3 separate regions of the Homo sapiens genome follow, and regions 1 and 2 are each linked to region 3. The links come from fine-mapping of genetic effects on gene expression. A gene starts in region 3. Each other region holds a variant in brackets. All regions are shown on one strand. Distances are from middle to middle. Region 1 has its middle 23 kb from the start of OTUD6A. Region 2 overlaps EDA (ectodysplasin A). Region 3 holds the start of EDA (ectodysplasin A).

Region 1 (7,861 bases), 470 kb after region 3:
GTTGGATATTGTGAATAACAATAGTGACAATAACTACCATGTATATGGCTAATAATTATTTCAGTGAACACTTATCCTGTGCCAAATATTGCTATAAGTACTTTACATATATTGACAAATTTAATTCTCCCCAACCCACTGAAGTATGCACTATTATAGTCTCCATTCTACAAATGAGGAAACTGATAAACAGAGTGGTTAAGTAACTTGCCCAAGGAGGTTATAGACTACTATTTCAAGAAGTTTATAGTGAATGAAAAAAGAGAACAGTAAATCATGCAGAAAACAGGGAGGTTTGTTTTTTGTTCTGTTGTATAGGCAGGGGTTGAGCGCATTTATGTTTCAGGAGAGAAGCCAGGGAAAGGGGAGTGAAAGTGCTTGATCCCTCCCTCAGGCGACCAGAAAGGATGGATCAAGAACCCAAGTATGTACAGCTTTGCCCAAGGGAATGGCCTCCCCTAAGATCTGAAAAGCCAAGAGTTCTGTGCACTAGAGAGCAGAGAGAACACACCTTAGGTAAAGTAGATTGTTGAGGACCTTGCTGAACGATGAGGAGGCCAGGAGTGGGTAAAGAAAGCTGGAGAAAATATGCAGTGAGGATTCCTCAATGTCTATCACAGTTAAAGCAATTGCACATGTCTGAATCCCACCCCAGGCCTACTGAATGGCATTCTCTGGAGGTGGATTCCCCGTGACAGCATTTTTAACCAGCTCTAAAGGTGCTTCCGATGTCCCTTAAGTTTAAGAGACATAGTGGCATGTGAGATCCACAGACAGAGGATGAAGTGAAGAAGGATCCACCCTCTAAGACGGAGCATGGAGGGACAGTTTCCCCAGAAACTGGGACTTTTTAAATAAGTTCTTCAAATGATTCTAATGTAGGTAGTCTGTGGGCCACACTGAGGAAGTTTTGCCTGTAGGGTGACAGTGGCTAAGCATGTAGACTCTGGAGCCAGATTCTGAATACTGTACTACTATTACCTGTGCAACCTTTGGCAAGTGAGTTAACCTCTCTGTGCCTCAATTTTCTCATCTGAAAAATGGGGCTAATAATAGATAGTACCCATTTCATAAGGTTGTTGTATTAAATAAGTTGATATATGTAAAGTGCTTGAAACATAATAAACATCCAATACTCAGTAAATATTAGCTATCAGTGTTGCTTTGTTTTTATCATTCACCATAGTTGGGGGGTGCAGGACCACTGAAAGTATGACCTGAAAAGTAGGTTAGGCAATGGAATGTTCAAGTAGACTCATGAAAATCACCCGAAAAGTCTTGTGACCAGCTCAGGAGGAGAAAGGGGGACTAAAACCTAATAATGAGGCAAAGTGAGAGTTGTACTCCTTTATGACTCGTCTGACTAGGGTCCCTCGTTGGTGAAGACAGTCATTGACAGGGGAAGTGTCACGCAGTATAGAGCTACATCTGGCAAAGTGAGAGTGGCAGGGAGATGGACATAAAACTGCTGCTAGGCCCTCCCTAGATGGAGAGCATACTGGTTATTGAAAGAGGCTAATGTATTCAAGAAAGACTTGATAAAAAGAGTAGCTTGGGAACCAGTACTGCAAGGATGGCCAACTGCTTAAAATCTGCCTTGTTCTGTCCCTGGTGGGAAACACCAGGCTCTAAAAGTGCTCTCAAATCAACTAAAGTCCTTTATTACCATCTGACTAAAGGCCTTAGATTCTAAGCTAAGCCTCCTTGGCAAGCATTTGGAGACCTGTCACCAGCCACAGGGCCAGGCTGCTGCTTAGCCTCTTGGTGTGTCTTTTGCTCCTTTGCAACTTAATCCTGTTTTGGATGTCAGTTACGCGGGACACAGAGAGGCTAGAGAGAAAGCTGGAACCCAGGTCCCAAGAGAAACAGTTGAAGGAGCTGGGGCTGCTTAGCTTGAAGAAGAGAAGACTTGAGTGTTTTGAATGAACTTCTTCAAGTTGGTTTTTGTTTGTTTGTTTTGTTTTTTGTTGTTGTTGTTGTTGTTGTTTTTGAGATGGATTCTTGCTCTGTCTCCCAGGCTGGAGTGCAGTGGCACGATCTCGGCTCACTGCAACCTCCACCTCCTGGGTACAAGCGATTCTCTGCCTCAGCCTCCCAAATAGCTGGGATTACAGGCACCCGCTACCATGCCCAGCTGATTTTTGTATTTTTAGTAGAGAAGGGGTTTCACCATGTTGGCCAGGCTGGTCTTGAACTCCTGACCTCGTGATCCACCTGCCTCGGCCTCCCAAAGTGCTGGGATTACAGGTGTGAGCCACCGCGCCCGGCCCAAGTTTTTTTAAAATCAATTTAGCTGGTAGCAACTGTCCCTCGCAGCCACCAGAGGCCCTGTCAAAAGAACATCAGCAGGGGACCAACTTGCATGGGTCCCTTTTGGCAGGCAGCCTCAGGGTCAGGGGTCAGACTGCGGGCACTGCTTCAATGACACAACTACAATGTGAAAGTCTAAGAGTTCTTATTAGCACTTACCCACCCTGGGGTGTACACGGCATGCCCTGGAGGCCGCATGCACACAGGCACACACACAAGGTCAGGGAGCACGTGAGAGAGAAGAGAGCATGTCAACTAGCAGCATATATTGGAGAATAGGGTGTGTGGGGGTCGCTTTTAATTTCACAGGCAAATGCTTGAATGGTCCTGCACCAGAGATGTCTCTAAGTTCTTATCTCCAAACACCTACTGGAGCCATTTGGGTGTGGTGTCGAACTGGAAACGGTACTGGAAACGGTGTCAAGGGTGATTGAATGAGACCTGCCTCTGGCACGAGAAAGCTAAACCTGCATTCAAAATGAATGCCGAGGCAACATAAAATTATAAGCATTCACTACATCAACGCAGTGTGGGTTCTGTACCTCTGAAGGGCTATTATAAAGCTGCAAGAGCAGGTGGGATGTGAGGGGTGGTGCCCAAGGGGCAGAACTAGGATTCATAAGTGGGTAGAAATTTCAGGGAGGCATCTTTCAGCTCAATACAAGGAATTAACTTTCTAAGAGAACTGATCGACCATGAATCAGAATGGATACCTTGTGAGGTACTGGGTAATGAGTTCCCTGTCACTGGAGGAGTGCAAGCTCAGGTTGTATGACAAGTTTACAGGAGAGCACATTTAAGCATCCAGTTAAACTTTACAGCTAAAACGCTTGTTCTCTGTTTGTGTTCAGCAGCCTGGTTTCATTTCATAACCCTTGGCTTCTTAGCCCTGGGCTTTAACAGGCTGATTTAACATCTGGCAACCAGGTCACATCTAAATATAACTAGGAAATGGATGTTGGGTAGCACTTTGATTCTCTCATAAGCCCCAATTAGGTCCATGAGCGTCTCTCCTTTCTAGCTACCGTCACCTCTCCTCTCTCAGACTGCCTACAAAGTAGGATACATTTCTCTGGTTCCCTGATTTCTTGCTGTCTTTGAAACAAACCCATAGGCCCTTTAGGATTTAGGATAGGAGGTGACAAAACAGCAAACATGGGCAAGTAATCCAGAGGCCCAGGAACTTTGTCCAAGTTTCCAGAGCAGATGTCCATTGTCTACTAAACAAGTGCTTCTCAAACTTTCATGTGCATTGAATCACCCCGGGATCTTGTTACAATGAAGATTCTGATTTAGGATCCTGAGAGTCTGCATTTCTAACAAACGCCTGATGATGCTAATGCTGCTGGTCCATGAATCTAAGACATTATGTAAATGGCAGGTAACTCACATGCCTACAGGATTAGCATAAATAGTTGAGCGAAGCCCAGGGGTTCTGAGAAGGTAGCAAATGGATAAACCAGTTGCTCTTCAAATATCCCTGGACTCCCTGGGCCCTAGATCTCGTTACCTACCCCATCCCCCTGCCCAGGTGAAGGCCTCCTTGGCATTTTCTTCAGATTTCTTCCTTCAAAACAAAGGGCTTGGAATCCACAAAGGGCGCCGCCCACCACCAGGTACAACGTTTAAAAAAGTTTTTAATTTAAAAAATTTTATTTTTGGCTAGGCGCAGTGGCTCATGCCTGTAATCCCAGCACTTTGGGAGGCTGAGGCAGGCGGATCATGAGGCTAGGAGTTCGAGACTAGCCTGGCCTACATGGTGAAACCCCATCTCTACTAAAAATACAAAAAAATTAGCTGGGTGTGGTGGCAGGCACCTGTAATCCCAGCTACTCGGGAGGCTGAGGCAGGAGAATCGCTTGAACCCAGGAAGCGGTTGCAGTGAGCTGAGATCACGCCAATGCACTCCAGCCTGGGTGACAGAGCAAGACTCTGTCTTGCGGGGGGAATGGGGGGGTGCTCTTTTTTTTCATTCAATACAATGCTCAATGGATGTCTCCATCTTGAGCTCTCCCACCTCACACACACGCTATTTTTTTTTTTTTGAGACAGAGTCTCACTCTGTGACCCAGGCTGGAGTGCAGTGGCATGATCACAGCTCACTGCAGCCTCGA[T/C]CTCCCCAGGCTCAGGTGATCTTCCCACCTCAGCCTCCCAATTAGCTGGGACTACAGGTGCAAGCCACCACGCCTGGGTAATTTTTGTATTTTTAGTAGAGACGGGATTTCGCCATGTTGCCCAGGCTGGTCTCAAACTCCTGGGCTCAAGTGATCCACCTGCCTCGGCCACTCAAAGTGCTGGGATTACAGGCGTGAGCTACTGCACCCAGCCTGACTTTTGTTTTGTTTTGTTTTTTTAATACAGACGGGGTCTCATGTTGCCCAGGCTGCTCCTGTGCTCAAGCAATCCTCCCGCCTCGGCCTCCCAAAGTGCTGAGATTACAGGTGTGAACCACTGCACCTGGCCACACACACACTTTAAACAGAAGGTTTGCTGCAGTTGTTTTTTGCCAGTAGACTCCAGGACAAACCCCAAGTTGGAGGGCAAAGACTTTCACCTCTGTAAAAGAATTGTTCCTTCCATAAGAGGTTCATCCAGTAAGAAAAATGGTAGTAGAGAAAGAGACTTAAGCCTGGGTTTATAATCATTGAAGAAGACCCTACCCCACCACCTTGGTCCCTCAGGGAAGTAGCAGTGGAGAGCAAAACCCAGCTCATTCTACAGAAGCCCTCTTTCATAATGGAAGCACAAATACCTCCCCAAAAGGAGCTGTGCTAACTTTCAAGAGTGGTGGGCATCCTGTCATGAAACAGCCTGGGCACACAGCTATATGAGTCAGATATGGTAAACACCAAGCATCCCAAGGAGGGAAAGGTTCTCAGAACTAGCTGCCTCCCCAAGGGAAGGAAGAGTTGTGTTCAAGGCTCCAGGACATCATCCCTCTCACACCACACTATGCTCTGGGCGCATGGAGGGGTGGTGGACCTCATACCTCAGGGGCATGTTCTGTTGGAAGTGGCTCAAACGAGACACTTACAAACCTGTCTCAGCAGCCTGCCTGTCAAATTATACCTCTGTGCTGGGTCAAACTTTTGGCCAATTAGAACTTAGAAGAGCAGACCAGTGCGGTGGCTCACGCCTGTAATCACACCACTTTGGCAGGCTGAGGTGGGAGGATTGCTGGAGCCCAGGAGTTCGAGACCAGCCTGGGCAACATGGTGAAACCCCTTCTCTACAAAAAAATAGAAAAATTAGCAGGGCATGATGGCGTGCGTCTATAATCTCAGCTACTCAGGAGGATGAGTTGAGGCCACATGGAGTGGCTCACACCTGTAATCCCAGCACTTTGGGAGGATGAGGCAGGCAGATCACTTGAAGTCACAAGTTCAGGACCAGCCTGGCCAACACGGTGAAACCCCTTCTTTACTAAAAATACAAAAATTAGCCGGGTGTGGTGGCAGACGCCTGTAATCCCAGCTACTCGGAAGGCTGAGCCATGAGAATCGCTTGAACCCGGGAGGTGGAAGTTGCAGTGAGCTAAGATCATGCTACTGCTCTCCAGCCTGGGTGACAGAGCGAGACTCCATCTCAAAAAAAAAAAAAAGAGGCTGAGGTGGGAGGATCACTTGAGCCCAAAAGGTCGAGGCTGCAGTGGACTGTGATCACACCACTGCACTCCAGCCTGGGTGACAGAGTGAGACCCTGACTCAAAAAGAAAAACAAAAAAGAATTTAGAGGAGCAAAGGCCACTATCAGCTGGCCCTTCACAGGTGTGGTGAGAATGGTGGTGGTGGCCCCAGTTGGGCACAAAGGTAAGCCCTGGGATGGAGAACTGACAGGGCCTAATAGTGTCTGCTCCCAGACAGACAGACTGCTACTTGGTAGGAATGCCACAGTTGTTGCAGAGAAGCTGTGTTAAACTGGGAAAAGCTTGCTTTGAGAATCGATCCAATTAGACTGCAATTCTAGCTCCCCCACTTTCTAGCACTGAGACCTTGGAGCAAGTTACTTCACTGCTCTGTGCCTCCGTTTCCCCCTTGCAAAAACAAAGCAAGACCTACCTCTTCAGTGTATTGTGAGGATTTAACGAGGCATTTGTGAAAGCACTTGACACAGAGCATGTGCTCTAAAAATGTTTCTTTCCTTCCTTTGGCCTGGCAGCATATGTTTACTAAGGAAAGCTGAGACATAGAGAGGCCAGCCCTATCCCTTGGACTGATGCCAAATTGGAGGCCTCTACATGCCATGCCCAGGAAACAAATATAAGACCAGAAGAAGATTAGATAAAGCTGCTGTCTGCCTGCCTGCCAATGTGACAGCTCTTTTGGGTTCTGACAAAGGAGAGCAAGCCAGTCTGAACAGAGTACCAGCTCTGGGAGTTTCGGATCCCAGAAAAAGGTCCTAAGTCCTGGGTGACAAAGACAAGGTCTCTAACTGCCCCAGTCTGGCATACATAGTCGGAGGCTGGCAGATGCATAGAAGAGGCCTAGACGGGGAAATCAAGATGGCTCCAACTCTGACTGCCACGAAAAATGTGGTTTCTGGAGTCCCGGGTCAAGAAGCTTCCCTCTTTCTGAGCGCCAGAGAAGAGTTCCAGAATGAACAGGAAGTGCAAAGAGAGAGCCAGCCGAGAGGCAACCCTAAAAGAACTATCCATCAGAGGCTCAGATCACAACTGCTCTTCTATGCATTGGCTTAAAAATCAAATTCCATTCTGGACAAATTTCCTTATTGCACGCAAGCTGCTCTAATTTCAAGAATGTCAAATACGCAGCCAAATGCAATTACATTTTAAGCACAGCACTCACTTGAAATATAGCACAAATTTCTAAACCAATTTTAATCAAATTACAGAGAGGGCAGACATGCTCAGCAACCTGAAATTCCACCTGATCCAGAGAGCCTTTCCTGATTAGTTAGAAGAGTGGCCAGTTCACTGGCTCTCCCCTGCCTGTTGTGTTCACTGTCTGCTCTCAGGTATGTCTTTATCCTTATTCTTGTACACTGTGTAGATGTGTTTGTTGATTATGCATTTCTGCCCTGGTTACCTGTTTGCTTGGTTAATCACATGTCCTTTATGCCTGAGCAGTCTTTTGGCTATTTCCTTCTGGTGCCTCTCTGTGGGCATGGGCCTGGCCTTGGAATCCTCCCATGCAGGGCTTCTGCCCAGGTGCTTAATAAGGGTTCTTTGAGAATGAAAGCTCAAAAAGTCTTAGGCCAAACCAGGTGGCTGCTGGGACATTATGTGACAGCAAGTCTAAGCCCTCCCCCAGAATTTAGGCAATAACTCATTTATTATCTGGGCAATGGGTCTAAGTGCCTTAGTGTCACTCTGGTCTAGAAGACTGGCCTACCCCTCACAGCCAAGCATCACCAGAGATGCCTGCATGTATATTCCTGCCACAGGTGGCTGGAGGAAGAGCTGCCTGTGTGCTCCCTCTAATGCTCAGCCCACTGACCAAGACCTGAGGGAATCATATCCAGGGGGCAGCTGACAGAAAGGAGATCAGAAGTTAGCTAATGAAGAGGTCTGTGACTGGCTTTGGGAGTTCTT
Region 2 (7,861 bases), 400 kb after region 3:
TCTGCCACTGCCACTGCAGTGGTTCTGCTCTTGCTGCCTTCAGACTGAGGAAGAAACAAAGAGCCTAAGGGCTTTACTTATACTTCCAGCACACCACAGTTGCCATATGGAAAGGAGCCCAGTCTCTCTTCCCAGTGAGCCTCTGACCCCCTGCTCTTCACCAAGCAGGGCCCCAGCTCAGGCCCATAGTGCAGCTGCCCCACCCTCTGGCTGAACATTCCCATTGGCAGCAGCTCTGCATTTCTCTGGGGTGGAGCTCCCAGAGACGACTGAAAGCCCTTCTGCCACTGCCACTGCATTGATACTGCCCTTGCTGCTCTCTGACTGGAAAAGGAACTAAGATCCTGAGTGCTTTACTCACACCTCCAGCATACCACAGCTGCCCTAAGGAGAAGAGGCCAGTCTGTCTTCCCCTACAATACCCCTGCCTCCCTACTCATTACCAGGCAGGGTGCCCTGGCTTGGGCCCACGGCACAGCTGCCCTACCCCAGGCTGATTGCTCCAATCGGTAGTGGCTCTATATTTATCTGGGGTGGAGCTCCAAGATACAAGTGGCAGGCCCTCTGCCATTGCCACTGCCAAGGTCCTGGCCCTTTCAGTCCCCAAGCTGGGGAGGGAACATAATGCCTGAGCACAGCCCAGGAGTGCCAAGTGGAGAGCTGAGAGCTGAGATCTACAGCCAGCACTCATGTAGGAAGGGAGCCCACACCCTCAGATCACTGAGAGGGAGCACAGCTGAAGACACAAGGAAATACAGAGGAACCACATGGCTGGGCAAGAGCCTGCCTACTGGCCATTATGCCTAAGTGCTATCTACTGGATCACAGCTCAAATTTCAACAACAAAAATACTTTGCTAGCGTACCCCCCGATAAAATCAAGGACAAGAGTTCAGCTACAAATGAAGACCTAGCGCAAAGCCTCAGCCCTCTGATACATCCAAAAACAAAGTCAACTGACCATAACTGAAATTATACCACAGTTAAAGGAACATCAGCCCACGCAGATGAGAAAGAACCAGCATGAGAACTCTGGCAATTCAAAAAGCCAGAGTTCTCCTTACATCCAAATGAATGTACCGGTATCCAGCAAGAGTTCTTAGCCAGGCTGAAATGGCTGGAATGATAGTCATAAAATTCAGAATAAGATTCAGGAGAAAGTCAAAACCCAATCCAAGGAATCTAAGGACTACAATAAAATGATACAGGAGCTGAAAGATGAAATAGACATTTTAAGAAAGAACCAAACTGATGTGATAGAACTGCAAAATACACTATAAAAATCTCATAATGCAATTGCAAGTATTACCAGCAGAATAGACTAAGCTAAGGAAGAACCTCAGATCTCACAGACTGGTTCTCCAAACTAAATCAGTCAGACAAAAATAAAGAAAAAAAGAATTTTAAAAGAACGAGCAAAACCTCTGAGAAATAGGGAATTATGTAAAGACATCAAATCTAACACTCATTGGCATCTCTTGAAAGAGAGGGAGGGAATACGAGCAACTTGGAAAACCTACTTGAGGATATTATCCATGAAAATTTCCCCAAACTCGCTAGAGAGGCCAACATTCAAAGCCAGGAAATGCAGAAAACCCCTATGAGATACTGTACAAGACAACCATCCCCAAGACACATAGTCATCAGATTCTCCAAGGTCAACATGAAAGAACAAGTATTAAAGGCATCTAGAGAGAAGGGGCAGGCTACCTACAAAGGTAACCCCATCAGGCTAACAGTGGACCTTTCAGCAGAAACCCTACAAGCCAAAAGAGATTGGGAGCCTATATTCAGCATTCTTAAAGAAAAGAAACTCCGGCCAGGCACAGTGGCTCACGTCTGTAATCTCAGCGCTTTGGGAGGCCAACGCGGGTGGATCACCTGAGGTCAGGAGTTTGAGACCACCCTGGCCAACATGGCAAAACTCTGTCTCTACTAAAAATACAAAAATTAGTCGGGCATGGTGGTGCATGCCTGTAATCCCAGCTACTCGGGAGGCTGAGGCAGGAGAATCACTTGAACCCAGGAGGCGGAGGTTGCAGTGAGCCGAGATCACGCCTTTGCACTCCAGCCTGGGCAACAGAGTGAGACTCCATCTAAACAACAATAAAAAAAAGAAACTCCAACCAAGAATTTCATGTCCAGCCAAACTAAGCTTCATAAGCAGAGGAGAAATAAGATCCTTTTCAGGCAAGCAAATGCTAAGGAAATTCATTACCACCAGACCTTACAAGAGGTCCTTAAGGGAGTGGTAAATATGGAAATGAAAGACCATTACTGGCTACCACAAAAGCACAATTAGGTACATAGACCATTGACACTATAAAGCAACTATACAATCAAGTCTACATAATAACCAGCTAACAACACAATGACAAGATCAAATTTGCACATATCAATATTACCCTTGAATGTAAATGGGACAAATGCACCAATTAAAAGTCACATAGTGGCAAGTTGGATAAAGAAGCAAGACCCAACTTCTTTCTTCAAGAGACCCATCTCACATACAGTGACACTCATAGGCCCAAAGTAAAGGGATGGAGAAAATCTGCCAAGCAAATGGAGAAAGAAAAAAAAAAACAAAAAAAAACAGGGATTGCTATTTTAACTTCAGACAAAACAGCCTTTAAACCAACAACAATTTTAAAAGACAAAGAAGGGCATTACATAATGGTAAATGGTTCAATTCAACAAGAAGACCTAGCTATCCTAAATATATATGTACCCAACACAGGAGTACCCACATTTATAAAACAAGCTCTGAGAGACCTACAGAGAGACTTAGATAACCGTACAGTAATAGTGGGAGACTTCAACACCCCACTGACAGTATTAGAAAGATCATTGAGGCAGAAAACTAATATAGATATTTCAGACCTGAACTTGATACTTGACCAAATGAGCCTAACAGACATCTACAGAACTCTCTACCAATTAAAAAAAAACCCAGAATATACATTCTTCTTATCTGCACATAGCATATGCTCTAAAATTGACCACACAATTGGCCATAAAACAATTCTCAGCAAATTAAAAAAGAAAAACAGAAATCATACCAACCACACTGTCAAACCACAGCACAATAAAAATAGAAATCAATACCAAGAAGATCACTCAAAACCATACAAATAACCTGCTCCTGAATGACTTCTGGGAAAATAATGAAATTAAGCAGAAACCAAGAAATTCTTTGAAACTAATGAAAACAAAGATACAACTTACCAGAATCTCTCGGGCACTGCTAAAGCAGTGCTAAGTACTAGATGCCCACATCAAAAAGTTAGAAAGATCTCAGATTAACAACCTAACATCACACTTTGAGGAACTAGAAAAACAAGAGCAAACCAACCCCATACTAGC[G/A]GAAGACAAGAAATAACCAAAATCAAAGCTGAACTGAATGTATTTGAGATGTGAAAAAACATACAAAAGATCAATGAAATCATACTTGGTTTTTTGAAAGAATAAATAAGATAGACCACTAGCTAGAGTAATAAAGAAAAAAAGAGAGAAGATCAAAATAAACACAGTCAGAAATGACAAAAGGGGCATTACCATCAATACAACAGAAATGCAAAAAAAAAAATCAGAGACTATCAAAAACACCTCTATGCACACAAACTAGAAAACCTAGAAGAAACTGATAAATTCCTGGAAACATACAACCTCCTGAGACTGAGCCAGGAAGAAATTGAATCCCTGAACAGACCAATAATGAGCTCCAAAATTGACTCAGTAATAAATAGCCTGCTAAGAAACTAAAAAGCACAGGACCAGGTGGATTCACAGCCAAATTCTACCAGATGTACATAGAAGAGTTGGTACCATTCCTACTGAACCTATTCCAAAAAGTTGAGGAGGAGGGGCTTCCCCCTAACTCACTCTGAGGCCAGCATCATCCTGCTACCAAAACTTGGCAGAGACAAAAAAAACTTCAGGCCAATATCCTTGTTGAACATAAAAGCAAAAATCCTCAACACAATACTAGCAAACTGAATCTAGCAGCACCTCAAAAAAGCTAAGCCACCACAATCAAGTAGGCTTTATCCCTGGAATGCAAGGTTTGTTCAATGTACGTAAATCAATAAAAATTATTCACCACCTAAACAAAACTAAAAACAACAACCACATAATCATCTCAATAGATGCAGAAAAGGCTTTCAAGAAAATACAGCACCACTTCATGTTAAAAATCCTCAACAAACTAGGCATTGAAGGAACGTACTTTAAAATAATAAGAGCCATTTATGACAAACCCACAGCCAACATCATACTGAATGGGCAAAAGCTGGAAGCATTCTTATTGAGAACCAGAACAAGACAAGGATGCCCTCTCTCACCACTCCCATTCAACACAGTATTGGAACTACTAGCCACAGCAATCGAGCAAGAGAAAGAAATAAAAGGCATCCAAATAGGAAGAGAAGAAGTCAAACTATCCCTCTTTGCAGACAATATGATTCTATACCTAGAAAACCCCCATAGTCTCTGCCCAAAAGCTCCTTGATCTGATAAACAACTCCAGCAAGTTTCAGGATATAAAATCAATGTACAAAAATTAGTAGCATTCCTATACACCAGCAACATCCAAGCTGAGAGCCAAAACAAGAATGCAGTCCCATTCACAACAGCCCAAAAAGAATAAAATACCTAGGAATACAGCTAAACAAGGGGTGAAAGACCTCTACACTGAGAATTACAAAGCACTGCTCACAGAAATCAGAGATGACACAAACAAATGGAAAAAACATTCCATGTTTATGCGTCAGAAGAATCAATATTGTCAAAATGGTCATAATACCCAAAGAAATTTACAGATTCAATGCTATTGTTATCAAACTACCAATGACATTCTTCACAAAACTAGAAAAAACTATTTTAAAATTCATATGGAACCAAAAAAGAGCCTGAATAGCCAAGGCAATCCAAAGCAAGTAGAACAAAGCTGGAGGCATCATATTACCTGACTTCAAACTATATGTTAAGGCTGCAATACCCAAAACAGTATGGTACAGATCGAACAATGGAATAGAATAGGTAGCCCAGAAATAATGTCACACACCTATGACCATCTGATCTTTGACAAAATTAACAAAAACAAACGATCTAGAAAGGACTTACTATTCAATAAATGGTGCTGGGATAGCTGGCTAGCCATAAGCAGAGATAATTGAAACTGGGCCCCTTCCTTACACCATATACAAAAATTAACTCAAGGTGGATTAAATCCTTAAATTTAAAACCCAAAACTATAAAAACCCTTGAGGAAAATCTAGGAAATACCATTCTAGACATAGACCCTGGAAAAAAATTTATGACAGAGACATGAAAAGCAATTGCAACAAAAACAAAAATTGACAAATGGGACCTAATTAAACTAAAGAGCTCCTGCATAGCAAAACAGCAAAAGAAGCTATCAACAGAGTAAACAGACAACCCAAAGAATGGAGAAAATATTTGCAAACAATGTATCTGACAAAGATATATCCAGTATCTATAAGAAACTTAAACAAATATACAAGCAAAAAAACAAGCAACCCCATTAAAGAGTGGGCAAAGGACATAAACAGACACTTTTCAAAAGAAGACATATACATGAGCAGTAAGCACATGAAAAAATGCTCAGCATCACTGATCATTAGAGAAATATAAATCAAAACTAAATGAGATACCATCTCACACCAGTCAGAATGGCTATTACTAAAAAAATCAAAAAATAAGAGATGCTGGTGAAATTGTGGAGAAAAAGGAACACTTATATACTTCTGGTGGGAGTGTAAATTAGTCCAGCCATTGTGGAAAGCAGTGCGGTGATTCCTCAAAGAACTTAAAGCAGAATTAGCATGCAACCCAGCAATCTCATTATTGGGTATATACACAAAAGAATATAAATTGTTCTACCATAAAGACACATGCACATGTATGTTCATGGCAGCACTCTTCACAATAGCAAAGATGTGGAATCAGCCTAGATGACCATCAACGGTAGACTGGATAAAGAAAATGTACGTACATGTCATGGAATACTATGCAGCACAGTAGACTGGATAAAGAAAATGTACATACATGTCATGGAATAATATGCAGCCATAAAAAAGAATGAGATCATGTTCTTTGCAGCAACATGGATGGACCTGGAGGCTGTAATCCCAAGCAAACTAATGCAGGGACAGAAAACCAAATGCTACATCTTCTCACTTATAAGTGGGAGCTACACATTGAATACATATGGACACAAAGAGGGGAACAATAGACACCAGGGCCTTCTTGCGAGTGGAGAGTGGGAGGAGGGTGAAGATCAAAAAACTACTTATTGGGTACTACGTTTATTACCTGGGTGATGAAATAATATATACACCAAACCCCTGTGACACACAGTTTATCTATAGGACCAACCTGCACATGTACCCCAGAAACTAAAATAAAAGTTTAAGAAATGACTTTGAGCCCTGTTTCTGTTGGTACTCTTCATGTCATGGGCATTTTAGGGAAAAAATATAAAAATTTTAGTTAACTCTTTGTCTTACACTGTATGCCAAAATCTATACCAGATTAATTGTAGATTTAAAAATAAAAATGAAACCATAAAAGAACTAGAAAATATATAAAGAGTTACCTATAATATCACATTAGGGAAGGCCTAAGTAAGCATGACACTGAAGGCAGTAACCATATAGGAAAAGATTATTAGGTTTAACTACATGTAAGGAAAGCTTTTCACACCCTTTGACCCAACAGTGTCATTTCTAATGACACATCCTAAAAAACCTTTGGACAAGTGTATAAAAATGTACATATGTGGGGCCGGGTGCAGTGGCTCACGCCTGTAATCCCAGCACTTTGGGAGGCCGAGGCAGGCGGATCACGAGGTCAGGAGATAGAGACCATCCTGGCTAACACAGTGAAACCCCATCTCTACTAAAAAAATACAAAAAATTAGCCGGGCGTGGTGGCGGGTGCCTGTAGTCCCAGCTACTCGGGAGGCTGAGACAGGAGAATGGCGTGAACCCGGGAGGCAGAGTTTGCAGTGAGCCAAGATCGCACCACTACACTCCAGCCTGCGCGACAGAGCGAGACTCCGTCTCAAAAAAAAAAAAAAAGTACATCATTGTTTATAAATGTACATAACATATAAATTGTTTATAAATGTACATATAAATTGTTTATAAAATGTACATATAAATTGCTTATAAACATACATTGTTTATAAATGTACATCATTGTTTATAATAGTGAAAAACTGGACCCAATCTAAATATTTATCAAAGATGATTAAACGCTGATGCATCCATATTAAAAATTACAATGTAAAAATGTAGTTATTGACATAAAAAAGGTTATCAAATGACATTTTTCATCTGATCCCATTTTGTAAAAATACCTATTTATATACATAGAAGACTTCTAGATGTGCATGAAATGTTAGTAGTGATTATTTGGGGGTGCTTTAATAAGCTCTTTTTCCTTTTGCTCCTCTTTTGTATGTATATACGTATGTATGCATGCGTTTATGTATGTGTAAGGAGTAGGTATATTTTGTATGAAAATAATAGAAGCTTAAAAAGATTTTAAAATTTCCATTTCTCTCTTTTCACTTGTGGATTTAAGTCAGACCTTCTCCAGGAAGCTATTTGTTCCCCTTAAGTGGCCAGTATAATTCCTGAAGCCACTCCCTCATCTTTTGTATTTCCCTATTCAACTGTAAGTTCTTGAAGGTAGAGTTGTGAGTTGCGTTTCATTATTTACTGCCTTCCATACACATACTCTGTAAGGACTGGTTGGCTGGTGATGGCCTGATTTCTTCAAAGTCTGCTTTTGAAGTCTGATATAACAGTGCTTACCCTTAACCAGCTGAAACGGTC
Region 3 (7,861 bases):
TAGGTATTAGAAATATCAAAATAAAACAATATTGGTGCCTACTATGTGGTAGGTGCTATGCTAGAGATTAGAAATAGCAAAATAGAAAGGACACAATTCTTACCATCAAGGAGCTCATAGTTTAGTGGTAAGAAATCCATGTGAAACATTCAAAATGCAGTGTGGTAAGTGATATCATCAAAGTATGCTCAGGGTGCAATGAAAGCACAAAGGAAGTCTGGTTGGAGTGAGTTGTGGGGCCATACCAGACAGAACATGTGAATTGATTCTTGAAGAATTTATCAGGTTTCTAAGGTAGGGGCAATCTTGACAAAGAAACTAGTTTGTTCAAAGGCACGGTGGTGTGAGAAGTGTCAGCAAATTTAGTAGTGTGCAAGCATGACTTCCTTGTAAAATGGTGGAAGATAATGTTGGAGAGACAGACTAGAGGGCATGTTAAGGAGCTTATATCTTGTCTCCCGTAGTACCTGGGATCAAAGAGGTAAGGTGAATGAGTGACAAGGACAGTAATGAAGGATAGAAGAAAGAGGTGGTGATGGCTGTGGAACTTGATTGTTCATGCTTATTTCAAGGAGACAGTTCTAGCTGAGTGTAGCCACATGGGAATGTGAATCCAGAGTTATAGGGTCTTCTGGTTTTTTAACAGAAAAGCAGGAAATCTGGATTTTTTAAAAATGTGAAATCTCCAGAGTTCCAATAGCTGACAATTGCTTTTTTTTTTTTTTAATTCAAAGGTTTAGTTGATACTGCACCGAACACAACACATCTGTTTGCTGGATGTGGCCTGCAGGCTGTCATTGAGACCTGTGCTTTAGGGGACAGGATACGTATGGAAGCATAGAAGCTAACTGAAACAAAACTTTAAAACACTTAAAAAATAACCACATACATTCCTCTCTGGATTGCCCCATTCCAACATTTCTACTGCATATGATGACACATGTTCTTTCTCTGGGGAAGCAAAGAGAGGTCCCAGGTCAAATGCAACCCTCAGGGCTTCTGAGGGCAATGGTGTAATCCAGAGTCTCAGTCAAGCCTGGTAGAACATGGTAAGGTGAGACCAGTGTGGCCCCTGAGCATCACCATCACCACCAGGAGATGGCTGTCATTTGTTTCCTTTTCATTTTAGAGGAAGAAAGGGCAGCCTGTTTAAACTGTGTATGCAAGAAAGTCAACATGGCCAGTGACAACACAGACAAAACACAGTGTAAAGGCTGTTAAAGTTCAAACTCCTCATTTTACTGCCGGAGAAACTAAGGCCCTGAAAAAGCACAGTGACTTGCTCAGAGGGACCCAGCAACCTAGTGGCAGGATGAAGTCTCCTGACTCCTGGTCTAGCATTCTTTCCAATAATCCCGGGCTGTGATAATTAAAGTAAATCAGCCTGGCAGTTTTCCTAGCATCTAGAATTCCTGGACTGGACAAGCAGGACTTGAGAGCAGCTGTTAAACACCTTTTTTCCCCTTAGCTCTAGGATGATGATATTCTTTGTGAACTTTATATTTCATGGGTAGGGGTTAAAGAGACGACACAAAGATGTTTTTGAAGCACTGAGACCATTCACAAAGTGTACAGAGAAAAGTTGTCTGTGGCTAATATATTTAAGGCTTATGACCTCTGTGCTCTCTGGACTGACCTGCCAGCAGATGCTTTTGGTTTTGTGTTTTATTTCTCTTATTTTGTCTTCTTTTCTATTTCTATCTATGTTTTTCTTCTCTTCCACCAGCCTAGGTCTTAGGCCTACACATAAGTGCCCCCGGCATTGCTGAGCCTCCATGATGACACTCAAGATGCCTGCTGCAAGTCAATAAAATTGTTAATTATTCATTACTCAATAACACGGAATGAGAGTGCGTAGTGACTATGAAGCATACATGGTTCCCCTGCTATGGTCATTTCGCTTTCTATAATCTCAGACTAGTAACTCTTGTCAATTGTGACTCTTGATTTAATCCTTTCCATCCTTCATTTCAGGGTCTATTGTTCTGCCTTTTGCCACTTTTTTTTTTTTATCTGAACCCGTTTCTGATTGGTGCAGCTGTTGAAGATGCTGCAGTTGCAGCAGTGTACATCTGGAACATTTGGCTGACTTGTTGAACTTCCCCCAGGGAGTACTCCAGGAGAAGGATGGGAGGGGTGGAGAGGCCAGAACAGTTGCCTGTAAATAAAGATGCCAGTAGTGTCTGGCCATTCTGTGGACCACACTTGTACAAATCCACTTCATTCTGGCCCTCGGTTTCCCTGTCTACTCACTGAAGACATACGTTCTCCAATCAAAACTGCTGCAGTGGAAGAAATCTATTCTGGCTGTGGATGCTCTCATACAGCATTTTTTGCATTGTACAGGGATCGATAGATATTTGTTGAATTAATTAATATATCAAGAAATCCTAGGAGACTGTTTTACCCTTCAAGGGACAACATCATTTCAGTTCCGCTTGGCATGGGGCGGCTTCTCTGTTACTTAGATTGAGCCTTCAGAGTCACTCCAGGAGTGAGGCTGCTTGAGTCCCACCCATTCCCATAGTTCCCAGGCTCCTGGGTCTCCTTTTCTTCGGGCGAGCCATTGAATTGCAAACACAGCAGGCATGGTTTCATTCCAAACCCAGAGCTGTTTTAATTAGTTTAACGTCTGTTAAACGCTTTGAAGATTGGAAGCAACAGATAAGTACTGGATGATGTTATTAACAACTGCAGTTAATTGCAAACATTTCTATTAATGCTAGTTTCTGCCTCCTTTTCTTTGCTCTACTTTCTTTCCAAGGTTCCCAAATTCTTAGCCTCCCCCTCCTTTCCTCCCCGTACTGGCGCTATAGGGTTAAACTGGGGCGGAGCCCAGGGATGAACGACAGCGCCAGTCACCAACTGGTACGGGGCAAGCGGGAAGAGCTGGGTGGGGCGGCCAGGCAGAGGCGAACCCTCACGCCCCCAGGCCCCGCCCCGCGGCTGGAGGCCCGGCTGGAACGGCACGGGGCGGGGCGCCAAGGCTTGGCGGCCCCGTGGTTGGGCGTCCCGGCAGCCGCTTGAGGGATGGGGCGGGGTCGGCCGGGACCTCCTCCTTCATTCCCTCGGCGGGCCGAGCCTCCCCTCTCTCCCGCCCCTCCTCCTCCCTTTCCCACCCCTCGGAGTAGAGCTGCACATGCGGCTGCTCCCTGCTCCGTCCCGCCCAGCCACTGTCGCGCAGGAACGGGTCCCTGCAGCCCCCAGCCGATGGCAGGACAGTAGCCGCCTGTCAGAGGTCGTGAACGGCTGAGGCAGACGCAGCGGCTCCCGGGCCTCAAGAGAGTGGGTGTCTCCGGAGGCCATGGGCTACCCGGAGGTGGAGCGCAGGGAACTCCTGCCTGCAGCAGCGCCGCGGGAGCGAGGGAGCCAGGGCTGCGGGTGTGGCGGGGCCCCTGCCCGGGCGGGCGAAGGGAACAGCTGCCTGCTCTTCCTGGGTTTCTTTGGCCTCTCGCTGGCCCTCCACCTGCTGACGTTGTGCTGCTACCTAGAGTTGCGCTCGGAGTTGCGGCGGGAACGTGGAGCCGAGTCCCGCCTTGGCGGCTCGGGCACCCCTGGCACCTCTGGCACCCTAAGCAGCCTCGGTGGCCTCGACCCTGACAGCCCCATCACCAGTCACCTTGGGCAGCCGTCACCTAAGCAGCAGCCATTGGAACCGGGAGAAGCCGCACTCCACTCTGACTCCCAGGACGGGCACCAGGTGAGTCACCTAGTAGGGGCGGCGGCGGCCCCCTCCCCTCGCGGGTAGGGCGAGGGCCCTCCGCCACAGGGGCCTGGGAGCACTCAGCAACCTCGAGCCAATTTAGAGGGCAGGACCAGGGAGGGACCAGGCGAGCAAGGGAGAAGTTGCCCAGGGCAGGTTGTCTTCGGTCCCTGGCCCAGCTAATCCAGACTCCCTGGGGACCCCTTGACTTGGAAAGTCTCGCGCGCGCCCGCGGCCCCTGGCTGCGGGCTGCCTCGAGAAAAGTTGGCGACGCTCCCGTCGAGGAGGTGCCTGCGCTGCCCCCCGGCCGACTAACGGCTTGGCCCTTCTGCTCGTGATGAGGTTCTCTGCCCGCGGTGCTTGTTTTTTCGTGTCTAGAGCTGATGCCAGAACCAGCAGGCTCCCCTTTGGAGTTGGAGCTGTAAACAGCTGTAATAACTGTTCCACGCCCGCCCGTTGAAACAACTTTTAACCGCATTTTCAGCGCGGGTCCTTGTGCGCTGACCAGAACGTGGGCTTGTTCACACTTACCTGCAATTTGAGACTGATTGTCCTCGGCGTTCTAGTGAGGATCAGCGCCCCTGAGGAATTCTGGTAGAAATATGCCGTCTTGCTAGACAACTTCTGAACAGCAATTTTAAAAATCTATGGAAATAAAACTCACCCTTTGCATGCCGGTTCTGATTCTTAAGCGGGGTAGGTGTGCGGTGGGAAGGGTGGGTGGGAAGCGCTTTTACTACTGTTAGCTTGAGAACGGGAATCTGCCAATGGAATAATTACTCAGGACTCGTCCCCCAAGAGCAGTTTTGTTTGTTTTTGCAATCTTTATGGTGTTTGTGCCCTAATAAGCAAACTATTAGCTTTGGTGTTTGTTTTCTATTCTATTCTTTCTAGCTTTTTATTCAAGTAAATTTCGTTCACTTAACGTAAATACTGTCTTGGTTGCCATATGTGAAACTTAGGAGAAGCATCCAAGGATCCTTTCGAGGTGGCTAAAGAATAATAATAAAATTGTACCTCTTAGGGAAGAGAGCAAGTTGTACAAATAAGTTCCTTGAGGTGAGGGACCCAAGCCTTCTATATTTACTGCCACATCCAGAGTCATTGTCACAACTCTGTAAACATTATTTGTGCCACTTTGACCTCCCATCTAAAGTGGTACGCTTGATAGAGACATCATATTCATGATAATAGTGTAATGTTAGGACTGATACTTAAAAAAAAAAAAAAAGATGTGCATTGTAAAGTTGCCCTGAGCCTTAAAATGTCTTACTAGCACACTCCAATTTATATAACAGCTTATCAAAGAAGAGAATCAGCAGACATGCTTCTCATACTTGAAACTTTAAACATTGTAGCTAAACGATAATTAACTAGGATTCTGACTCCTTTATTTATCTACTGCCACTCCCCCCACACCCCAATGCCCAGCAGAAGTATTTAGCAGCTGAACATTGATATTCTGTGAAAAGATGAAAGAATTAAACTTCTTTAATCAAATGTTGGCCAATACTTTTTGGCATTCAGGATGGACAGAGCCATTTTTATAGACTGAGGATTAGCAGAACAGCTGTACTGTAAGGTTTCTGTGATGGCATGAAACTCTTACAGGTGTATAATGGCATTTAGTTACCTACCCTTTGTGTGGCACTAAAATAGTTCTGTCTAGATTTAAACACAGCTTCCTATCTTCTGTCTTTTATTCTTTCTGTTTTAATATTTTTGAGCAATAGAAGCAAGGATACTAGCTCTTTACATTTGTTGACATCAATTGGAATCAGTTTCCTAGAGTTATGAAGGGCTTATATGAGTCCATTTCGTTTGATTCCCTTGGGAAACATAGGCCCTAAAGGGAAAGTGACTTGCCCAAGGTCACATAACTAGAGTCAAAACTGGGATGATAGTTGCTCTAACTCCTAGTTGGGTGCCCATTCCCCCAACTACCTCCTGGGACCTTTTGCGAGGGAGCAAGATGGAGCTCCACATTAGAACTTTTGCAAAGTAGAGGGCTCAGCTCTGCATCATTTTGTTCTACTCTGCCTGTATTTTGACCACAGTAAGTTTAACCGTGTGTTCCTTATTCTTCCTGAACTTCACTTTCAGATTTGGAGTATACTTTGAAGGAATTTTAGCCCAAATTCAACTTGTTTATTTTAAGTTGTTCAACTTAAGTTTATCTTATCTTGTATATTAGTTTTAGTATACAAAAATAACTTTTTAAAAAAGTTGATTGGGTATTAAATTAATACTGCTACAAGCTTGGTTAAAATTTCTAGTGCCCTGGTGCACCCTCTGCTGGCTTTACAGTGACATTTAATTTTCAGTATCTGCTGACACTCAGAATTCTACATTGTGCTGACAGATTCTGATTCAGTAAATAAGGAAGTAAACAGCCTTGTGGGATTTGGCCACGTAGGTCATATTTTTATATTTTAGTTTTTAAACACAAACAACTGCTGTTACAGCAAATCTTGGATGGAGAGGAAGAAAGATAAAAATATACACCCTTCAACGGGCAGTACATTCAGGTTTCTTACCAGTTTATCTGTAAGGAGTGAAGGCAAGCTGATGAGAGTAAACTGCAGGAAGCTCTCATGAGACCAAGTGGGCAGAACAGTCAGAGACACTTCATGCAGGTAGGCAAAAGTAAACCTATCCATACTTATGAGATGATGGGCTCTGGGCTCTCAGTTATGACTCAAGAAAGGGACCTGGAAATCACTGTAGATGTATGTATATCATCTGTCAATTTAAAAACTTTTTAAGCAGGGCACACAAGGAAGTTAGGGCAGGTAGGATACAGAGCAGAGAGATCAGCACAGTTCTCCATGTGAAATGTTAGAAAAGTCTCCCTGGTGGGGACACACTTGCTGATGATGAAGTGAGAGAGTCACATCAGACCTTCCGTAATCAATCATCTCCTTCAGCTGGAGCAACCAAGTAGCTGAGATTTGTCTGGATAGTTGGTGGAGATTATCTCAAGAGCAAGGGATATCTCATTTGTGTCTGAATTAGGACAATATACAGTAATATGATCGTCAGAGTAAAAAACTAAAAATCACTGTTGATCATTCTGTGGAGATGTTGCGCCGGTTGTGATTGTGGTCCTCAAAGGCCAAGAATGTAGTGGGTATCATCAGGAAGGGTGTCAAAAACAACAAAACAAACCACTTACAAAACACTTATTTTTTCCATGTACAAGATCAAAAGCAGATTGGCTTCTACAATCAGACAGGAAATTCTGGTGGCTGCTCCTCAAGAAAAGCCTAACAGCTGATAAAAGTCCTCAAAAACCCCATTAAATTGATCAAAAGGATGAAGGGATTTTCTAGTTGGTTTTTCAGTCTGGATAGAAAGAGGTTGAAGGAGGAATATGATCAAAGTCTACCAAACCATGAGCGAGATGAATATGATTAATATATTGGTGTAACGTAACAATCCAGTTCAATAAATAGAAAGCCTGCTGTGCCAGACACAATGTTAAGTATTAGACACCTTTTAATGTTTGAAAAATTATTTTCAAGAGGAGGCAAATAAAGGTAGTATCTTATTCAACTCATTGTCTCAAGTAATAGTCAAAATTATGGGTAGATCAATACAGATTTACTTAGAACTGTTAGGGCTATTTGGAGTATGTTCCTAATTATTTGAAGTGATGTCATAGATGTCAACCTTAAAGTTCTACAAAACATTGCTTGACATAACTAGATAGACCATTAGTGTATCCAGAGTTGACATTACCTGTGTTAAGGCTCTTCGATCAAGAACATAACTAGGAATCATTCGAGGTGATTCAAGGTGAGCACAATGAATAAATCCAAGGATTTTTTTTTTTAGGGAGGTGGGATCTAGATAAAATACCTTTACTGTGGGTTTGAATACAGAACTTTTGATCAACTTGCTTCATTATTCCCATCGCATTTTCTCTCTCACTAACTCTGCTGCAACCCACCCATCATATCCTGTCTTAGAATCATTCTTTAGTTGTTATTGCTGTTGTTTTCAAATACATTTTATGTCTTTACATTAGAGCTCCTTAGAAATCTGCCTTCATTTTTGTCTTTCTCCATAATGCCTGACACAGTGCTAGTTACAGTTACTGTACTCAAATACTTGTTGAGTTGAATATTATTTTGGGACTTTGGAGGTGTTTATGTG

What was found. PIP is the estimated chance that this variant, and not a neighbour inherited with it, causes the effect.
Region 1: its variant is fine-mapped to the expression of EDA in whole blood (TOPMed, PIP above 0.99).
Region 2: its variant is fine-mapped to the expression of EDA in whole blood (TOPMed, PIP 0.99).

The regions. Positions count from the first base shown.
Region 1 is chrX:70,081,541-70,089,401 of GRCh38, forward strand. No RefSeq gene overlaps it. Among named protein-coding and RNA genes, the nearest start is that of OTUD6A, 23 kb to the left of the region's middle. RefSeq lists a silencer at 4,802-5,036. The variant T/C (reference allele first, on the strand shown) is at 4,425.
Region 2 is chrX:70,013,475-70,021,335 of GRCh38, forward strand. The region is part of intron 2 of EDA (ectodysplasin A); the gene reads left to right. Among named protein-coding and RNA genes, the nearest start is that of MIR676, 5.5 kb to the right of the region's middle. The variant G/A (reference allele first, on the strand shown) is at 3,363.
Region 3 is chrX:69,613,005-69,620,865 of GRCh38, forward strand. It overlaps EDA (ectodysplasin A), which reads left to right and starts at 3,109. Exons shown (of 8, transcript NM_001399.5): 1 at 3,109-3,700. The coding sequence starts at 3,305. RefSeq lists a silencer at 2,937-3,056.